2 separate regions of the Homo sapiens genome follow, and region 1 is linked to region 2. The links come from fine-mapping of genetic effects on gene expression. A gene starts in region 2. The other region holds a variant in brackets. All regions are shown on one strand. Distances are from middle to middle.

Region 1 (9,521 bases), 270 kb before region 2:
CTGATTGGATCTTGCAATGCAGTAATGCCAGGAGGCATGATCTGATTGGATCATGCCATGGGATGATGCCAGGGTTCAATCTGATTGGATCATGGATCATGCCATGAAGTGTCCTCTTGCTTTTTTTTTCTTTTTTTGTTGAGATAGGGTCTTGCTGTGTTGCCTAGGTTGGTCTCAAATTCATGGCCTCAAGAAATCTTCACACCTCGGCCTCCCAAAGCACTGGCATTACAGGTGTGAGCTACTCTGCCTGGCCTGGTGTCGACTTCTTAATTCCATCCCCTTTCCTTGGTTCAGGCATTTAGATGCTGCCCATGGTTGCATTCTTGGTTCACCTGGGCACACTCAGTTTATATAACTTGCAACCTGGGGTCAATAGCAATTGAAAAACAACACATTATTTTATTATACAAAGTGGAACCAGATTGCGCTAATTTTGAGGGTAATGGATATTGCTGGGAAGTTTCTTGTGGCCAAACACTGTTTTAAAGAATTTTTTTCAAGCTGATTATTAACAGGAAGACCTTTTAATCCTGCCAACTGATCTAAGTAAAGTGTAGAATGTTTGGAGGGCATCGGCATTACGAAAGACCTTAGTCCTTGGGAAGAAATGAATAAATGTGTCAATAAAATTTTAACCTAGATACAAGATCTTGTACCTAGTAGTTATTCAATAAATATTTGCTGAATGAAGCAAACACAGAAAATATAAAATTATGTGAAGTGTAAAGTCTGTTTTTCTGATGCTTTGTGAGGGAGAGATTATTTTTAAAATGTATTTATTTATTTTTAACTTTTTAAAAATTAAACTTTTTTTCTTTTCTTTTTTTTGAGACAGGGTCTCATCTTGTCACCCAGACTGGAGTGCAGTGGTGTAGTCTCAGCTCAGTGCTCACTGTAGCCTTGACCTCCCAGGTTCAAGCAATCCCCCTGCTTCAGCCCCCAAAGTTGTTGGAACTACAGGCACACACCACCACACCCGGCAACTTTTTGTATTTTTTGTAGAGATGGGGTTTCACCATGTTACCTAGGCTGGCCCCAAATTCCTGGGCTCAAGCAATTAACTTGCCTGGACCTCCCAAAATGCTAGGATTACAGGCATGAGCTACCATGCCCAGCTTACTTTTAACTTTTATTTTAGTTCAGGCTGGGGTACATGTGCAGGTTTGTTAATACAGGCAAACGCATGTCATGGGTGTTTGGTGTACAGACCATTTTGTTACCCAAGTACACTAAGCATAGTACCTGATAGCTATTTTTCCTGATTCTCTTTCTTCCTCCCTCCTGCGTCCCTCAAGCAGGCCCCAGTGTCTGTTATTCCCCTCTTTGTGCCCATGTGTTCTCATTATTTAGCTCCCACTTATATGTGAGAACATGCAGTATTTGGTTTTCTGTTCCTGTGTTAGTTTGCTAGGGATAATGACTTCCAGCTTCATTCATGTTCCTGCAAAGGACATCATCTCGTTCTTTTTTACAGCTGCATAGAATTTCATGGTGTATATGTACCACATTTTCTTTATCCAGTCCACCATTGATGGGTATTTAGGTGGAATCCATGTCTTTGCTATTGTGAGTAGTGCTGCAGTGAACATTAATGTGCATGTGTCTTTATGGTGGAATGATTTATATTCCTCTGGGTATATACCCAGTAATGAGATTGCTGGGTTGAATGGTAGTTCTGAATTCAGTTCTTTGAGGAATTGCCTTACTGTTTTCCACGATGGTTGAGCTAATTTACATTCCAACCAGCAGTGTATAAGCATTCCTTTTTCTTGGCAACCTCGCCAGCATCTGGTATTTTTTGACTTTTTAATAATAGTCATTCTGACTGGTGTGAGATGGTATCTCATTGTATTATGGGATCTTTGGGGTGTTGTTTTTCTAGCCAGGAACCTCTGTGGCTGGTGGCCCCTGTGCCCGAGTTTTGCTCGGGCCCACTGGGCTTGTTTCACCTACTCAGCCTGGCAGGCTGTGTTTGGCTCACCCTACTGGCCTGGGACCCATGCCTGCCAAGGGTGAGTCAGGCATGGAACAGTGAGGAGTGTGTGAGTGAGTGTGGGATCCGGCCACTGTGCACAGTCAGACGTACCAGCTGCCGCAGTGGGCCGGGCAGCTCCAGGTGCTGGCATGGGCTCTGGCTCTCTGTGAGGCTGCAGCTAGACCAGGCACACTGCAAGCAGCTTCTACGGCTGGCACTGGAGGACACATTGGCACCCAGAAGCTCGGAGATGCCAGGAACCACAGGGCCCCAAAATAGGAGTCACAGCCCTGGTCTGGGGAACTCCCAGGTCTGGGTTCCCCAAAGGGCTGCAGCTCTTCTTTTCTTCTCTTTGCCCACAATGAGGCAAGCAAGGGGCATGTCTCAGCCCTGTTTGTGTTACAGCTCTTTTATCCTTGCCATTCAGTGGGTCCTGAGTTCTTGTCCTGTGACCAGGAAGAATGAGGTAGGCAGAAAAGAGGAGAGTGAGTAAGATGAAGGGGAGCTTTATTGAGTGATAGAACAGCTCAGAGGAAACCTGCAGGGGGCAGCTACTTTCTGCAGCCAGGGTGTCTTGATGAGTGTTCAGCTCCTAGCAGAGAGGGTAGCTCCTCTCTGCTAGGCAATTCATCCTGACAAGTGTTCAGGTATCAGCAGAGAGAGTAGCTTTTGTCTGCAGGCAGGTCATCCCAACATCTGCTCAGCTCTGGCTGAACCCAGGGCTTTTATGGGCCTCAGAGGGGAGGAGGTGAGCACTGATTGTTCCATGGGCAGCCATGGATGGGCCTGGAAAAGACACCACAAGTTTCCACTGCAGTCTATGGGAGCAGCAGCCTGGCCCCCAGCCTTCAGGCCCTCCCTGGCCTGAAGGTGGGGCCTCACGTGGGACCCACTCCCTTCCCCCCAGGAACCTGTCTGCCTCCTGCTGCCATTCATGGCACCCAGGCTGTACGTGCCAAGGGGCACCTGCAGGCCAGTGCCAAACTGCCCTTATCACCCCCTCAGCTTCCCTCCTGTGCTCTTTGGCACCCAAGGTCCAGAGGCGGGCTGAAGTGGCAGGGGGCTGGTGTGTCAACACTTCCCTGAGCATGTACACACCTGGCTGGGCTGTGACAGAGCTCAGGCTTGACCATGACTTTGCTCTTAGATCGGAGTGGGTACCGACAGCAGGGAGAAGCCAGGCGGCAGGAGCAGGCACTTCCAAGCCTGTGAGGGCAGGGGGAGAGGACCATCCTGGGTCTCCAAGAGTGCAGGGATGCCTGGGTTCACAGCCACAGTTTGGGTGTCTGCAGCTGCATCCAGGGGGTGGGGGTCCTGCTCTGTGGAGTGGGAGGTCATGCTCTGCAGTCACGACTTGGGTGGCTGCAGCCACGCCTAGGAGGACAGGGCTCCTCCCTGCTCCCAGCACCCCCAAGAGCACAGGGAGGCCTGGGTCTGCAGCCATGACTTGGGCAGCTTAACCTGTGCCCCAGGGGGTGGGGCTTCTTCTTGCTCTGTGCTTTGGGAGGCCCAGTTTGCAGCCATAACTTGGGCAGACTTGTGTCTGCACCTGGGGAGCTCCCACCCTAACAAATCAGAAGGGGCAGGGCTCCCACTTGTCTGAGGCTCCCACCAGCTGCATGGAGTATACAGCTCTGGCTGTACCTCCCTGCTGCAGCCTGTGTGATGGCAGCGGCCACTCTAGATGGCCCACCACTGCCATCAATCACCACTCTGTAGAGGTACATCTAACTGCCGTTAGGATAGGGACAGTGACCATTCTTAACTGCTTCATGCTGACAGGGGGCATTGTTTTTGGGAAAATGGCAGTCAGGTTTTCTCTCAGGGGCCTATATAAGGGTCTCCAGTAAAAGGGAGCCATTGTCCGAGGCTCCATTTGCATGACCATTGGAGTTTGACGGCCCATCCTTTTTGTTTCTTCTGAGCTGCAGTCAGAGATCACTGGTTGGTTCACCCTCACAACTGTCAAAAGCTACAAATATCTCAAAAGGAAAGCTTCCTTGATTCTGAAAAACAAAACGAAGGATCATCAATGGTTCAAGCAAAATGTCAAAAAAGATTACTTCAGTCTTCTGTTAGTTCCGTTCACTCAAAGAAACTCCTGTTCACAATCTCCAAAATTATCAGAAACCTTGGGACAAAAAGGTGCCTCAAGAGGGTGTATGGGCCCATTAAATTAGTCCCAGGCAGCCCTCACCAAATTGCAGCTAGCAACTGGCTGGGGCTGCTCCTCTGTTGCCTCCCTATCATAAGCAGGTGAAGCTGTGGGACCAGTTCCTCCTCAAACAAGGGAGAGAATGGGAGTCCCAGGAATTGGGGACCTGGCCTAATAAGGTGCCTCCTGAAAGGAAAAAAAGCTAACCTGTTGCAAGAAAAAGCTTCCTGTATTCACAGGACTATGACAGTGGCAGAAGGAGACCTGAGATGCCCCTCACGGTTGTGCCAAAGGAGGAGGAGGGCCTAGATTGAAGAGGAGAACTGAAAGACCTGCTCCAGAGTCCAGAAGGAGGTCAACCCTCCTTCCCTTGATGCCCAGAATCACCTGGGGCTCCTGGGTGGCAATGGTAGTCTGAACAACCGGAGCTGGGGAGAGGAGCCCCAGAGCCTGTCAGTCCC[G/A]CTGCACTATAAGGGAGGCCGGCCCTGGACCGGGTGACCCGTGTCTCCAGGGATAGTCCGCCCTCTAATTGTCCTCATCACAAACTGGACAGGGTCGAGGTGGCCTCCCCACACTGTCCAGACAGTCCCTCCTAAAATGACCTGGCCTGCCACATTTGCAGTAGTCAACAGGTGCATATCAGGGACTCTGGGGTCCATGAGCCCACAGAGCAGCTATTAGAGCCTCTGCCTTTTTCCTGTATCTCCCCTCTTTTCTGGACTTCCTCCCAGTTCCCACTGCAAAAGACCAACGTGGCTCCTACCAGGAAGCCCTCCAAAGTACCATCTGGTCCCACAGCCCGTTTCTGCTGCCCCCTCCTGACATCAGGGGCCACCTGTGTGATAAAGTCAGTGCCTAGGACCAGCTATTCTGCTACTGAATCAGGAGATAGAGAGGTGTGTTTTACCAAGGCCCCTCCCTCTTAGCCTTTCCAGGAAGCCAGTGGGATTCTCATCAAATCCCTATTCTACCATGAATAGGTTGGTGTAATTCAGGGCCTTAGTCCTTGTCCTTCATAAGCCCTCCGGTATACACACCTGAAAGTGTTTCCTCTTCTATTCTCCTATTTCATCATTGGGGTCCAATTTTCAACCTCCAATGGTACTGCTATTTTTCCAATCAGATAAGTCTCATACCCTTTCCTGGTCCTATATAAGATATAAAGCTCATTGGCCAGGCACAGTGACTCACGCCTGTAATCCCAGCACTTTGGGAAGCTGAGGCAGGTGGATCATGAGGTCAGGAGATCGAGACCATCCTGGCTAACATGGTGAAACCCTGTCTCTACTAAAAATACAAAAAATTAGCCGGGCATGGTGGTGGGCACCTGTAGTCCCAGATACTCAGGAGGCTGAGGCAGGAGAATGGTGTGAACCTGGGAGGTGGAGCTTGCAGTGAGCTGAGATTGCACCACTGCACTCCAGCCTGGGTGACAGAGTGAGACTCCGTCTTTAAAAAAAAAAAAAAAAAAAAAAAAAAAAAAAATATATATATATATATATATATATATATATATATATATGGCTCATTCCCCAAATTCTCTGCCACTTGCAGGGTGGCCTGCTTTTCAGCGGTGGTCAGGGTTTGATTCAAAAGTAACATGAGGCTTGGTGCAGTGGCTCACACTTGTAATCCCAGCACTTTTGGAGGCCAAGGCAGGCAGATCATCTGAGGTCAGGAGGTTGAGACCAGCCTGGCCAACATGGTGAAACCTGTCTCTACTAAAAATACAAAAATTAGCCGGTTATGGTGGTGGACACCTGTAATACCAGCTACTCAGGAGGCTGAGGCATTGCCTGAATCTGGGAGGCAGAGGTTGCAGTGAGCTGAGATCACGCTATTGCACTCCAGCCTGGGTGACAGAGTGAGACTCTGTCTCAAAAAAAAACAAGTAACATGACATCCTTCCAGGAGAGCTCAAATACTTTGGTTAAGTTCTGGAAAGCCCCTATATACCTGTTAGAGCTGTCTAAAAACTTGCCAAGATCCCCCTTAATTTGCCTTAAGTCCTGTAGAGAAAAGGGAACCTGGACCTTAATGGGGCCATATTCACCAGGCATCTGTTGTAGGGGCAGTTGTGACTGGGACCTGCCTAAAATGAGGATTTCTAGGCTGGGCCAAGCTTGAGAGAAAACAGTGGAGGGGGTTGATTCCCCCACTGGAGGTACCTCTGGGGTTTGCTTCCCTATTTCCCTGGGATTGCCCTTTGCAGGCTCTCCTGAGATGGCCATGAGGTGAGCTGATTCAATCCTACCACATCAGCAAAGGTTTGGATTACCCTGCAAGGCAAAAAAGGCCTGCATGTATGGGACCTTGGACCATTTGCCCTTGCATTTACAGAAAAGCTTCCTTCCTGGGGCCATGCTTCTTTTCTGTGCCTCAAGGTTCTTGGCACTAAATTGGCAACCAAGGAAATGACAAGAACATTTTCACCACAAATTTATGTACAGATACCAAGGCCCACTTTGCTTCATCTGTGCTACTCTTAACCTTCCATTTTATACTTTTGAAGACTAAGCCAAATGCTTATTCTACCCAGTAATATTTCTGGTTTGCAACAACATCCTTAACATTCGACGTTGTATATAAAGTAGAGATAGGAACTTTGACAGCCGTGAAAGAAAGAAAGAGTGGGAAAGAAAGAAAGATAGGAAAGATGGGAGGTTCTAGTGGCAACACCCTAATGGGCAGTCGGGGACTGGAGTTAGTCCAGGGGCCTTTGGATAACGAGGCGAAGCCTCAGCCAGATACTCTGAGTTGCCCCACAACCTCCTTTGTCTTCCACCCAGTGGCTAGACCTCCATGAAAGGAAACCGGGTTGGAATAAAGCCAACATTCCCAAAACCTGAGGGTGATGGGGGATTGACAGTGTCCTCCCCAGCGAGCCTGTCCTCTGTGTCTTAAGTCCAGCAGCCACACTAGTTGCTTTTAACTGGCTGACAGAGGCTGGCATTTTTCTTTCATTTTAGCTATTGTGGAATTTAGGGACTCCAAAAAAGGACAGAAAGAGCAGATCTGCTTTTACTTACCCTTCCACAGATCCTGGATGAGCCCCCAAAATATTACAGGATCTTTGGGGTGTTGTTTTTCTCACTGGAAACCTCTGTGGCTGGCGGTGCCTTTGCCTGAGTTTTGCTTGGGCCTGCTGGGCTCATTTTGTCCACTTGGCCCAGCAGGCTGTTTTCAGCTTACGTTACTGGCCTGGTTCCCATGCCTGCTAAGGGTGAGTCAGGTGCGGAATGGCGTAGGGTGTATGAGCAAGCATGGGGTCTGACCAGTGTGCACAGTCAGACATGCCAGCTGCTTCAGTGGGCCAGGCAGCTTCAGGTGCTGGCATGGGCACTGGCTCTCTGCTAGGCTAAGGCTGGACCAGGTGCACCGCAAGCAGCTTCCATGGCTGGCGCCAGGGAATATGGTGGTGGCTGGAAGCTTGGAGATGCCAGGAACTGCAGGGCCCCAAAGAAGGAATCACGGGCCAGTCTTGGGGAGCTCCCAGGTCTGGGATCCCCAAAGGGCTGCAGCTCTTCTTTCCTTCTCTTTGCCTGCAACATGGAGAGCAAGGGGGAAGCATGTCTCAGCCCTGTTTGTGTTACAGCTCTTTTAGCCTCACCATTCAGTGGGTCCCAAGTTCTTGTACTGAGACCAGGAAGAATGAGGTACGTAGATAAGTGGAGGGTGAACAAGACAAAGAGGAGCTTTATTGAGCAATATAACATCTCAGAGGAAACCCACAGGGGGCAGCTCCTTTCTGCAGCCAGGTTGTCCTGATGGGTGTTCAGATCCTAGCAGAGAGGGTAGCGCCTCTCTGCAGGTGGTTGTCTCGTCGTCTATACAGCTCTCAGGAGAGAGGATACCCTAGAGTGGGTGGCTCCCCTCTGCAGGCAGGTCATCCTGTCATCTCCCTGTCATCTCTCCATCAACTCTGCAGCTCTCAGCAGAGAAGAGGCCCTAGAGTGGGTTGCTCCTCTCTGCAGCTGGTTGTCCCGACATCTGCTCAGCTCTGGCTGAGCCCAGGGCTTTAATGGGCCTCAGAGGGGAGGAAATGAGCACCAGTTGGTCCATGGGCAGCCACGGGCAGGCATACAAAAGACACCACAAGTTCCCACTATGGTCCATGGGACTGGCATGCTTGGCCCCCAGTCTTCAGGGTCTCCCTGGCCTCAAGGTGGGGCCTCACCAGGGACCCACCCCCTTCCTCCCAGGAACCTGTGTGCCTCCTGCTGCCATTCATGGCACCCAGGCTGTAGGTGCCAAGGTGCACCTGCAGGCCAGTGCTGAGCTGCCCTCAGCCCCTTGTCAACTTCCCTCCTAGGCACATCAGTGCCCAATGTCTGGAGGGGGCTGAGCTGGCAGGGGGCTGGCATGTCAGCACTGCACTGAGCATGTGTACATCTGACTGGGCTGCGACAGCACCCAGGTTTGGCCCCAACTTTGTTCTGAGATCAAAGCAGGTGCCAACAGCAGGCAGAAAGCCAGTCAGCAGCAGCAGCAGGGATTTCTGAGCCTGTGAGGGCAGGTGGGACCTTCCTGGGCCCCCAAGAGTGCAGGGTAGTCTGGGTCTGCAGCTGTAGTGTGGGTGGTTGCAGCTGTGCCTAGGCAGTCAGGGCTGCTGCCTAGTTCTGGCCTCCCTAAGAGCACAGGGAGGCTCAGGTCCACAGCATTCGGGGTGCCAGGGCTTTTGCCTCCTCCATGCAGCAGGAGGCCCAGGTTTGCAGCCATGATTTGGGTGGCTGTGGCTGCATCCAGGGAGCTCCTGCCCCACCAACTCAGAAGTGGCGGAGCTCCTGCTTGTCCCCAGATCCCGCTGGCTCCATGAAGCATAGAGCCCCAGTCGCGCCTCCTTACTGCAGCCAGCATGATGGGGTTCTTGTTCTGGGAGTAGGAGAAAGACATTTGGGATAGATGATAGGGTGGGTGCTAGGGAGAGCACAACACAAAGCCTCTGTAATCATTTGAAGGCCAGGTTGATACTCTTAGTCGAATGGGAAAAGTTATCTTGTCCTCCTCACAGGGCGTGTGACAGGGGAGCTGCTCGCTTCTTCAATGCCCCACTGCTCAAACCTCTAGGGGAGCATACAGATGGGCAGAATGTGATGCTCCGACCCTATAGCAGCATCTAGGGGTGGATGGTTACAGTTCCTGAGCCCCAGAGGGCGTGTGCTAAGGGGTGCTCTTTTAGTTTTGCTGTCTATAGGTGGTTGTGTTAACCAGCTCAATTAGACCCTCTACCTTGTTGCAAGGACAGAGGGTTTTCTGTATCCTGGATTCTTGCCCTAGTGTATTGGAAGAATCAGATCACACCTGGGCTTGGAGAATGAGTGCAAGGTTTTATTGAGTGGAGGTAGCTCTCAGCAGATGGGGGAAGCCAGAAAGGGGATGGAGTGGGAA
Region 2 (9,521 bases):
TAAGCACTCTCATAATCCCTATTTTATAAATGAGGAACTGATGTTTAAGAAAGATTAAGTAATTTGCTCCAAAATCACACAAATAGTAAATAGCCTATCTGAGATTCACCCCCAGGTCTGACTATGGTCTTAAACACTAGATATACTTCCTGTCCTATAAAGGAATAAAGTAAGCTAAACTACTCCATCTGTTGATTTTCTCTATCCCTTTCCTGAGTAGAACAGAATTGGCAGGTTTTTTATTTTATTTTTTTATTTTTTTTTTGAGACAGGGTCTGGCTCTGCTGCTCAGGCTGGAGTACAGTAATGTGATCATAGCTCATTGCAGCCTCAAACTCTTGGGCTCAAACAATCCTCCCACTTCAGCCTCCCAAGTAGCCAGGACTACAGGTATACACCACCACACCCAGCTAGTTTTTTTTTTTTTTAAAGAGACAAGGTCTTACTATGTTGCCCAGGCTGGTCTTGAACTCCTGGCCTAAAGCAATCCTCCCACATTGGCCTCCCAAAGCACCCACGCTGACCTCCCAAAGCACTGGGATTACAGATCTGCCACCATGCCCAGCCAGCATTTTTTTTTTTTTTTTTCAGACAGGGTCTCACTCTGTCACCCAGGCTGGAATACAGTGGTGCGATCTTGGCTCACTGCAACCTCTGCCTCCCAGGTTCCAGCGATTCTCCCACCTCAGCCTCCTGAGTAGCTGGCATTACAGGCATGAGCCAACTCAATTGGCTAACTTTTTTTGTGTGTGTGTATTTTTGTAGTAGAGATGGGGTTTCACCATGTTGGCCAGACTGATCTAGAACTCCTGGCCTCAACTGATCCACCCACCTCAGCCTCCCAAAGTGCTGGGATTACAGGCGTAAGCCACCACGCCCAGCCAGCAATATTTTTAATATATAGTACTTTTGGAGGATACTAAAAGATTTCAAGGTTGTTTCCTTCCAGCTGTTTTGTGTCACTTCAAATTTTAACAGCAGGCAATGATTACATGCAGTCCCTCTGATTTACCAAAACAGAAGATTCTCCTCTCAATTTGTATTTAATATCAGCTAATTCAAGATTTAAAAGTGACCACTGTCCAGCCGGGCATGGTGGCTCACACCTGAAATCCCAGCACTTGGGGAGGCCAAGGCAGACGGATCACTTGAGGTCAGGAGTTCAAAACCAGCCTGGCCAACATGGTGAAACCCCGTCTCTACTACAAATACAAAAAAATCAGCTGGGCATGGTGGCGGGCACCTGTAATCGCAGCTTCTTGGGAGGCTGAGGCAGAAGAATCGCTTGAACCTGGGAGGGGAGACTGCAGTGAGCCGAGATCGCGCCTCTGCACTCCAGCCTGGGTGACAGAGCAAGACTACGTCTCAAAAAAATAAATAAGGGGCTGGGCGCCGTGGCTCACACCTGTAATCCCACCACTTTGGGAGGCCGAGGCAGGTGGATCACCAGGTCAGCAGATTGAAACCATCCTGGCTAACAAGGTGAAACCCCATCTCTACTAAAAGCACAAAAAAAATTAGCTGGGTACGGTGGCGGGCGCCTGTAGTCCCAGCTACTTGGGAGGCTGAGGCAGGAGAATGGCATGAACCCGGGAAGTGGAGCTTGCAGTGAGCCAAGATCACACCACTGCACTCCAGCCTGGGCGACAGAGCAAGACTCCATTTCAATATAAATAAATAAATAAATAAATAAATAAATAAATAAATAAATAGTTGGGAGCCAAGATCACACCACTGCACTCCGGCCTGGGCGACAGAGCAAGACTCCATCTCAATATCAATAAATAAATAAATAAATAAATAAATAAATAAATAGTTGGGCCCAGGCGTGGTGGCTCACGCCTGTAGTCCCAGGACTTTGGGAAGCCAAGGTGAGGGGATTGCCTGACCTCAGGAGTTTGAGACCAGCCTGGCCAACATGATGAAACCCCATCTCTACAAAAAAAAAAAGAAAAAAAAATAAGGCCAGGCACGGTGGCTCACACCTGTAATCCCAGCACTTTGGGAGGCTGAGGCGGGCAGATCATTTGAGGTCAGGAGTTTGAGACCAGCCTGGCCAACATGGCGAAATCCCACTCTACTAAAAATACAAAAAAATTACCCGGGCATGGTGGCACACACCTGTAATCCCAGCACTTTGGGAGGCTGAGGCGGGCAGATCACTTGAGGTCAGGAGTTTGAGACCAGCCTGGCCAACATGGCGAAATCCCACTCTACTAAAAATACAAAAAAATTACCCGGGCATGGTGGCACACACCTGTAATCCCAGCTACTCGGGAGGGTGAGGTAGGAGAATCGCTTGAACCTAGGTGGCCGAGATGGCACCACTGCACTCCAGCCTGGGCAACAGAGCAAGACTCCATCTCAAAAAAATAAATAAATAAATAAATAAAAATGTATACACAAAGATGTTCACAAACTTACAACAATGAAAAACTAGAAATACCACAAATATCCAACCAACAGTACAAACCACCAATATCCAACCAAATGTTTAATCCACAACATTAATAATGATTTTTACCAGGCAGATGGCACGTGCCTGTAGTCCCAGCTACTTGGGGAGACCGAGGTGGGAAGTTACAGTGAGCTATGATTGTGCACTGCACTCTAGCCTGGGTGTCACAGCAAAACCACGTCACTAAAAAATAATAAATGAAGGCCAGGCATGGTGGCTCACGCCTGTAATCCCAGTACTTTGGTAGGCTGAGGCGGGCGGAACACCTGAGGTCAGGAGTTCGAGACCAACCTAGCCAACATGGTGAAACCCCATCTCTACTAAAAATACAAAATTAGCTGAGTGTGGCTGGGCGTGGTGGCTCACGCCTGTAATCCCAGCACTTTGGGAGGCTGAGGTGGGCAGATCACGAGGTCAGGAGTTTGAGACCAGCCTGGCCAGCCTGGTGAAACCCCGTCTGTACAAAAAATACAAAAAGTTAGCCAGGCATGGTGGCATGCGCCTATAATCCCAGCTACTCGGGAGGCAGAGGGAGAAGTGCTTGAACTCTGGAGGCTGAGGTTGCAGTGAGCCTAGATAGTGCCATTGCACTCCAGCCTAGGCAACGAGGGCGAAACTCTGTCTCAAAAAAAAAAAAATTAGCCGAGTGTGGTGGCACATGCCTGTAGTCCCAGCTACTTGGGAGGCTGAGATGGGAGAATGGCTTGAAACAGGAACCGAGATTGCACCACTGCACTCCAGCCTGGGCCAGACAGCAAGACTACATTCTGCGGGGCGGGGCGGGCGGGGGGTGGAGAAAAAAAATTAAATGAACATCTGCACATACATTGGAATGTAATACAAGTAAGACAACATTTACAAAGAATTTTAAGGCCGGGTGTGGAGGCTCATGCCTGTAATCCCAGCACTTTGGGAGGCCGAGGCGGGCGGATCACGAGGTCAGGAGATCAAGACCATCCTGGCTAACACGGTGAAACCCCCTCTCTACTAAAAATACAAAAAATTAGCCGGGCGTGGTGGTGGGCGCCTGTAGTCCCAGCTACTCGGGAGGCTGAGGCAGGAGAATGGCGTGAACCTGGGAGGCGGAGCTTGCAGTGAGCCGAGATCTGGCCACTGCACTCCAGCCTGCGCGAAAGAGGGAGACTCTGTTTAAAAAAAAAAAAAAAAAATTAGCCGGGCGTGGTGGCGGGCAAGTGTAATCCCAGCTACTCAGGAGGCTGAGGCAGGAGAATCATTTAAACCCAGGAGGCGGAGGTTGCAGTGAGCTGAGATTGCACCACTGCACTCCAGCCTGGGCAACAAGAGCAAAACTCCATCTCAAACAAACAAACAAACAAAAAAACAAAAAAAGAATTTTAAATTACTTGGGAAAATTATTGTACTACAAAATCAAACGAGAAAACTATCTCTGGTAACGACTGGCAGCCTCCAGGGAAGAGAACTAGAGTACTAACTGGATACAAATTATCAATTCATAAAAAATTAAAAATATGTGGAAAAAGATCAGAAGAAAGTGTGCTAAAATAGATTGCTTCTGAATGGATTAACAGTGTGGTTTCTGCCTGCTTCTTTATACTTAATTGTACCTTGCCAAATCATCTAAAATAAACATGCATTATTTGGCCGGTCACGGTGGCTCACACCTGTAATCCCAGCACTTTGGGAGGGCCAAGGCGGATGGATCACGAGGTCAGGAGTTCGAGACCACCCTGGCCAACATAGTGAAACCCCATTTCTACTAAAAATACAAAAATTAGCCGGGCGCGGTGGCGGGTGCCTGTAATCCCAGCTACTCCGGAGGCTGAAGCAGGAGAATTGCTTGAACCCAGGAGGCGGAGGTTGCAGTGAGCGAGATCGCACCACTGCACTCCAGCCTGAGTGACAGAGCTAGACTCCATCTCGCGGGCCGGGGGCGGTAAGGAATCAAGGTTTTACAAGAGCAGAAGATAGTAGAGATCACTGCATTTCTGTCAACTACATCCGTTCTGCCACCCGTGCCCTGCGTCCTGACAGAGCATACGCTCAGATGGTGTTTGCTGATTTGCCGAATGAATGAGATGGTCCCTTTCCCGCGGCTGCTCTGCCTGCCCAGAATGGTCCCCAGGTTTTCTCGCTTTTAACCAAGAAACTCAAGGCTTCTGCAACGAGACACAGCCCCCAGGACTGCTTCTCAACCAGTCTAGGCCTCCCTTCCTGTCTCCGCCAAAAGGCTTCAGGCTCCTCCCCACTCTGGAAGCTGCCCCAGCCCGCTTCAGGGCCCAGACCCTCAGTCCCGACGCCCACTAGCCTGCCAAGTTTCTTCCACCACACTACGCCGGCGGCCCTCGGTAGAGCCACCGCCCTTCTGCAGAGTAACGGCCCGCGCCCTCGGGACAATCCCTTTTCCAAAAATAACCCCCTCGGCACCTGCCCCCTTGGCAGCTGCTGCCCGGGCGGTACCTGTGCCGTAGACCAAGCAGCCGGAGAGGATCAAGAGTAGCCGCACTGTCCCACCGCCCCCGACTCCCGAGCCCCAGGGCCCGGGACCAACTGCCGGCGAGACCGCCACTTTCATTCCTCCCGCCATGGTTGCCTCAAGCCACCTCCTCCTCACGTGCCTTACCCCAGCAACTAACTCCGAACGGGCAACGACAGCAGCCTATCCTCTACGAAACCCGCCCCTATCAACCAATGGGATGGGCAGGGCTTCGAGCACCCAGCCCTCCAAGGGCCCTATGAGTCCCGCCCCTTAGCAACTGAAGAGAGAGGGCGGGAAAAGCAGCTTTCAGCCTATTGGAAAATGGGTTCTCACCCTAGCAGTGGCGACAGGAAGATCCCACCCCGCTAACAACATGCTTCCGTCTTCAGTTTATTTACAACTGGTGTGATTGATGGTAAGTTTAACCAATAGAAAATCGGAATGGGAGAGGCCTCCTTGACCAAACTCGGTATTTCCATAGAAGCTGTCTGAAGTTCCTTCCGTTTTCTTTCGGTTACTTTTTATCACGACCTTTCTGTTATGAGACGCCTACAATTGAGATCGCTTTATGAGTAGGACCCTGATAGGACGATTTTTAAAGTCGACTGACAAAAGTGTGGTTCTCCAAAGTCCTAAAGGATTTAAAATAGAAGTCACAAAAAAGTGTGTGTCAATATTTTATAAGCATAAACATTAGCTTTTAAAAATGTATTCATAGGATTTTTATTTTTGGAAGTAAAATTAATGTTAGGATTAAGAAAGATTCATTTATTCCTCTTATCATCTTGTGAGACAAATATAATTCTCTCCATTTAAGAAGCCAAAGCCAAGACAGCCACAGGAACCTGCCCAAGATTTCATAGTTCATCTGGTCTGTGATCCCAACCTAAATCCTACTGACTCCAAAGCCGGAGTTATTTATATGGATTAGCTGCTTCCCATTCAATGATTTAACACAGGGCCCAGCAGAGATCCAGGTGTTCAGAAACTGTTAGTAGAAATTGAAACTTTTTTTTTAAGAGGATCTGATGGTGATGGGTAGGAAAACTACAGATGATAGAGCCAAATGAATTGAGGAATTCAAGGAAGGGGGCATCTCCTGGGGAAGGTTCAAGCTTTCAAAACAAGAATTTTTTTTTTTAATGTTTTTAGAGACAGGGTCATTCTCTGACACCCAAGCTGGAGTGCAACAGCACCATCACAGCTCAGTGTAACCTTGAATTCCTGGACTTAAACCATCTTCCCACCTCAGCTTCCTAGATAGGTTGGGCTACAGGGATGCACCACCATGCCCAGCTATTTGTTTGTTTCATTGTTGTTGTTGTTGTTGTTGTTGTTATTGAGACAAGGTCTCCTTCTGTAACCCTTCTGGAATGCAGTGGTGTAACCACAGCTCACTGCAGCCTCGAACTCCCAGGATCAAATGATCCTCCCACTTCAATCTCCCAAGTAGCTGGGACTACAGGCATGAGCCACTATGTCTGGCTTAATTTTTTTTAATTACTTTTTGTAGAGACAATATCTTGCTATGTTGCCCAGGCTGACCTCAAACTCCTGGCCTCAAGTGATTATCCCACCTTGGCCTCCCAAATTACTGAAATTACAGGAGTAAGCTACTGCACCTGGTCTAAAACAAGGACCTTTTTAAAAGTCAAAATGGGCCGGGCATGGTGGCTCAGGTCTGTAATCCTAACACTTTGGGAGTCCGAGGCGGGTGGATCAACTGAGGTCAGGAGTTCGAGACCAGCCTGGCCAACATGGCAAAACCCCGTCTCTACTAAAAATACAAAAATTAGCCAGGCATGGTGGTAGGTGGCTGTAAGCCCAGCTACTCAGGAGGCTGAGGCAGGAGAATCCCTTGAACCCAGGAGGCGGAGGCTGCAGTGAGCCAAGATCGCCCCATTGCACTCCAGACTGGGTGACAGAGCAAGACTCTGTCTCAAAAGAGAAAAAAAAAAAAAGTCAAAATGGGCTGGGCATGGTGGCTCATGCCTGTAATCCCAGCACTTTTGGGAGGTTGAGGTGGGAGGATCACTTGAGGCCAGAAGTTCGAGACCAGCCTGGCCAACACAGCAAAACCCTATCTCTAATAAAAATACAAAAATTAGCCCAGCATGGTGGCAGGTTCCTGTAATCCCAGCTACTTAGGAGTCTGAGACAGAAGAATTGCTTGAGCCCAGGAGGCAGAGGTTGCAGTGAGCCGAGATCATGCCACTTCACTCCAGCCTGGGTGACAGAGCGAGCCTCTCTTGTCTCAAAAAAAAAAAAAAAAAGTCAAAATGGGGCTGAGCTATGGGCAAGAGAAGAGATTTCATTCTCAGAAGGAAAAGTCTAGGCCAACAGTGCTGATATGGTCATCCTGTATTTCACACACACACTCCCTCAGCTGACCTAGGGAAGTCAGCATCAATCATGTTGATACTATGTACCCTTGATAACATGAGATGAAAATGGCATTTTAACTCTGTGGTTTTCCTTCCCAAAACCCATAACACCACTCTAATCTTGAGAAAAACATTAGACAAATTCCAATAGAGGCATCCTACAAAATACCTGACCAGTACTCCTCAAAGCTGTCAAAGTCATCCAAACATCATTATGGGCTTTTTTGTTTTTGTTTTTTGAGACAGAGTTTCACTCTTGTTGAGCAGGCTGGAGTGCAATGGCACAAACTTGGCTCACCGCAACCTCCCCCTCCCAGGTTCAAGCGATTCTCCTGCCTCAGCCTCCCAAGTAGCTGGGATTACAGGTGTGTGCCACCCCGCCCAGCTAATTTCATATTTTTAGTAGAGATGGGGTTTCTCCATGTTGGTCAAGCTGGTCTTGAACTCCCGACCTCAGGTGATTTGCCCGCCTCGGCCTCCCGAAGTGCTGGGATTACAGGCATGAGCCACCATGCCCAGCCCATTATGTTTTTGAGAACTAAACATAATGTGGTGGTCTAGATGGGATCCTGGAACAGAAAAACACATTAGTTTAAAAAAACGAGGCTGGGCACGGTGGCTCATGCCTGTAATCCCAGCACTTTGGGAGGCTGAGGCGGGCGGATCATGAGGTCAGGAGATGGAGACCATCCTGGCTAACATGGTGAAACCCCGTCTCTACTAAAAATAAAAAAAATTAGTCGGGCGTGGTGGCAGGTACCTGTAGTCCCAGCTACTCAGGAGGCTGAGGCAGGAGAGTGGTGTGAACCTGGGAGGCGGAACTTGCAGTGAGCTGAGATCGCTCCACTGCACTCCAGCCTGGGCGACAGAGCAAGACTCCGTCTCAAAAAATAAGAAAACAAAAAAAAACACGGAGGCTGAGCATGGTGGCTCACGCCTGTAATCCCAGCACTTTGGGAGGCCAAGGCGGGCGAATCACGAGATCAGGAGTTCAAGACCAGCCTGGCCACCATAGTGAAACCCCGTCTCTACTAAAAATACAAAAATTAGCTGGGCGTATGGCGGGCACCTGTAAACCCAGCTACTCAGGAGGCTGAGGCAGGAGAATCACTTGAACCTGGGAGGCGGAGGTTGCAGCAGTGAGCCAAGATCAGTGCCACTGCACTCCAGCCCGGTGACAGAGTAAGACTCAGTCTAAACAACAACAACAACAACAAAAACTCAAAGGAAATCTGAATAAACTGTAGACTTTAGTTAATAATAATGTTTCAATACTGTTTCATTAATGGTGCTAAATGTACCATACTAATGTCAGATAATAATTGAGGAAATTGAATGTAGGGTATATAGGAATTCACCATATTATCTTTTCAATTTTTCTGTACATGTAATGTTTCTAAAAATAAAGTTGGCTAGCCTCAGTGGTTCACACCTGTGATCCCAGCACTTTAGGAGACCGGGTCTGAGGATGGCTTGAGCCCAGGAATTCAAGACCAGCCTGGGCAACATAGTAGGACTCTGTCTTTACAAAAATACAAAAATTAGCCAAGTGTGTTGGCACGTGCCTGTAGTCCCAGCTGCTCAGGAGGCTGAGATGGGACGATCACTTGAGTCTGGGAGGTTGAGCCTGCAGTGAGCCATGATCATGCCTCTGCACTCCACCCTGGGTGACAGAGTAAGACCTTGTTGCTAAAAAAATGAATAAATTGGGCAGGTGCAGTGGCTCATGCCTGTAATCCCAATGTCTTGGGAGGCCGAGGCAGGTGGATCACTTGAGCCTAGGAGTTTGAGACCAGCCTGGGCAACATAGTGAAACCCCGTCTCTACAAAGAATACAAAAAAAAAAAAAATTAGCCAGGTGTGGTGGCATGCACCTGTGGTCCCAGCTACTTGGGAGGTTGACGTGGGAGAATCACCTGAGCCTGGGAAGTCAAGACTGCAATGAGCTGTGATTGCACCACTGTGCAGCCTAGGTGACAGAGTGAGACCCTGTCTCAAAATAAATAAATAAAATAAAATAAAGGCTAATATATATGTATAGATATGTATATGTATTTTTTTATGTGTAGGTATATATACACATATATATACACATACTTCATTTTTTTTTATCAGGCCCCATTCTCATCATTCAGAGCTTGCTCTTTGGTTTTCACTAAAGCAAATCCAGGGGAACTAATTTCAGAAGATCACTGACCACTGACTATTAAAATATATAAAT

Alleles and levels. Positions count from the first base shown, and alleles are read on the strand shown. Sizes are in standard deviations (SD) of each study's normalised expression.
With allele A in place of G in region 1, the expression in whole blood of the gene that starts at base 5,070 in region 2 is higher (large effect, 1.7 SD a copy in TwinsUK).

The links. PIP is the estimated chance that this variant, and not a neighbour inherited with it, causes the effect.
Region 1: its variant is the best candidate, but not a certain one, in a credible set for the expression of NEMP1 in whole blood (TwinsUK, PIP 0.85).

The regions. Positions count from the first base shown.
Region 1 is chr12:56,801,857-56,811,377 of GRCh38, forward strand. No RefSeq gene overlaps it. Among named protein-coding and RNA genes, the nearest start is that of HSD17B6, 43 kb to the left of the region's middle. RefSeq lists an enhancer at 2,814-3,463. The variant G/A (reference allele first, on the strand shown) is at 4,595.
Region 2 is chr12:57,073,722-57,083,242 of GRCh38, forward strand. NEMP1 (nuclear envelope integral membrane protein 1) reads right to left here and starts at 5,070. Exons shown (of 9, transcript NM_001130963.2): 1 at 4,898-5,070. The coding sequence starts at 5,024. RefSeq lists enhancers at 4,625-4,874, 4,995-5,044.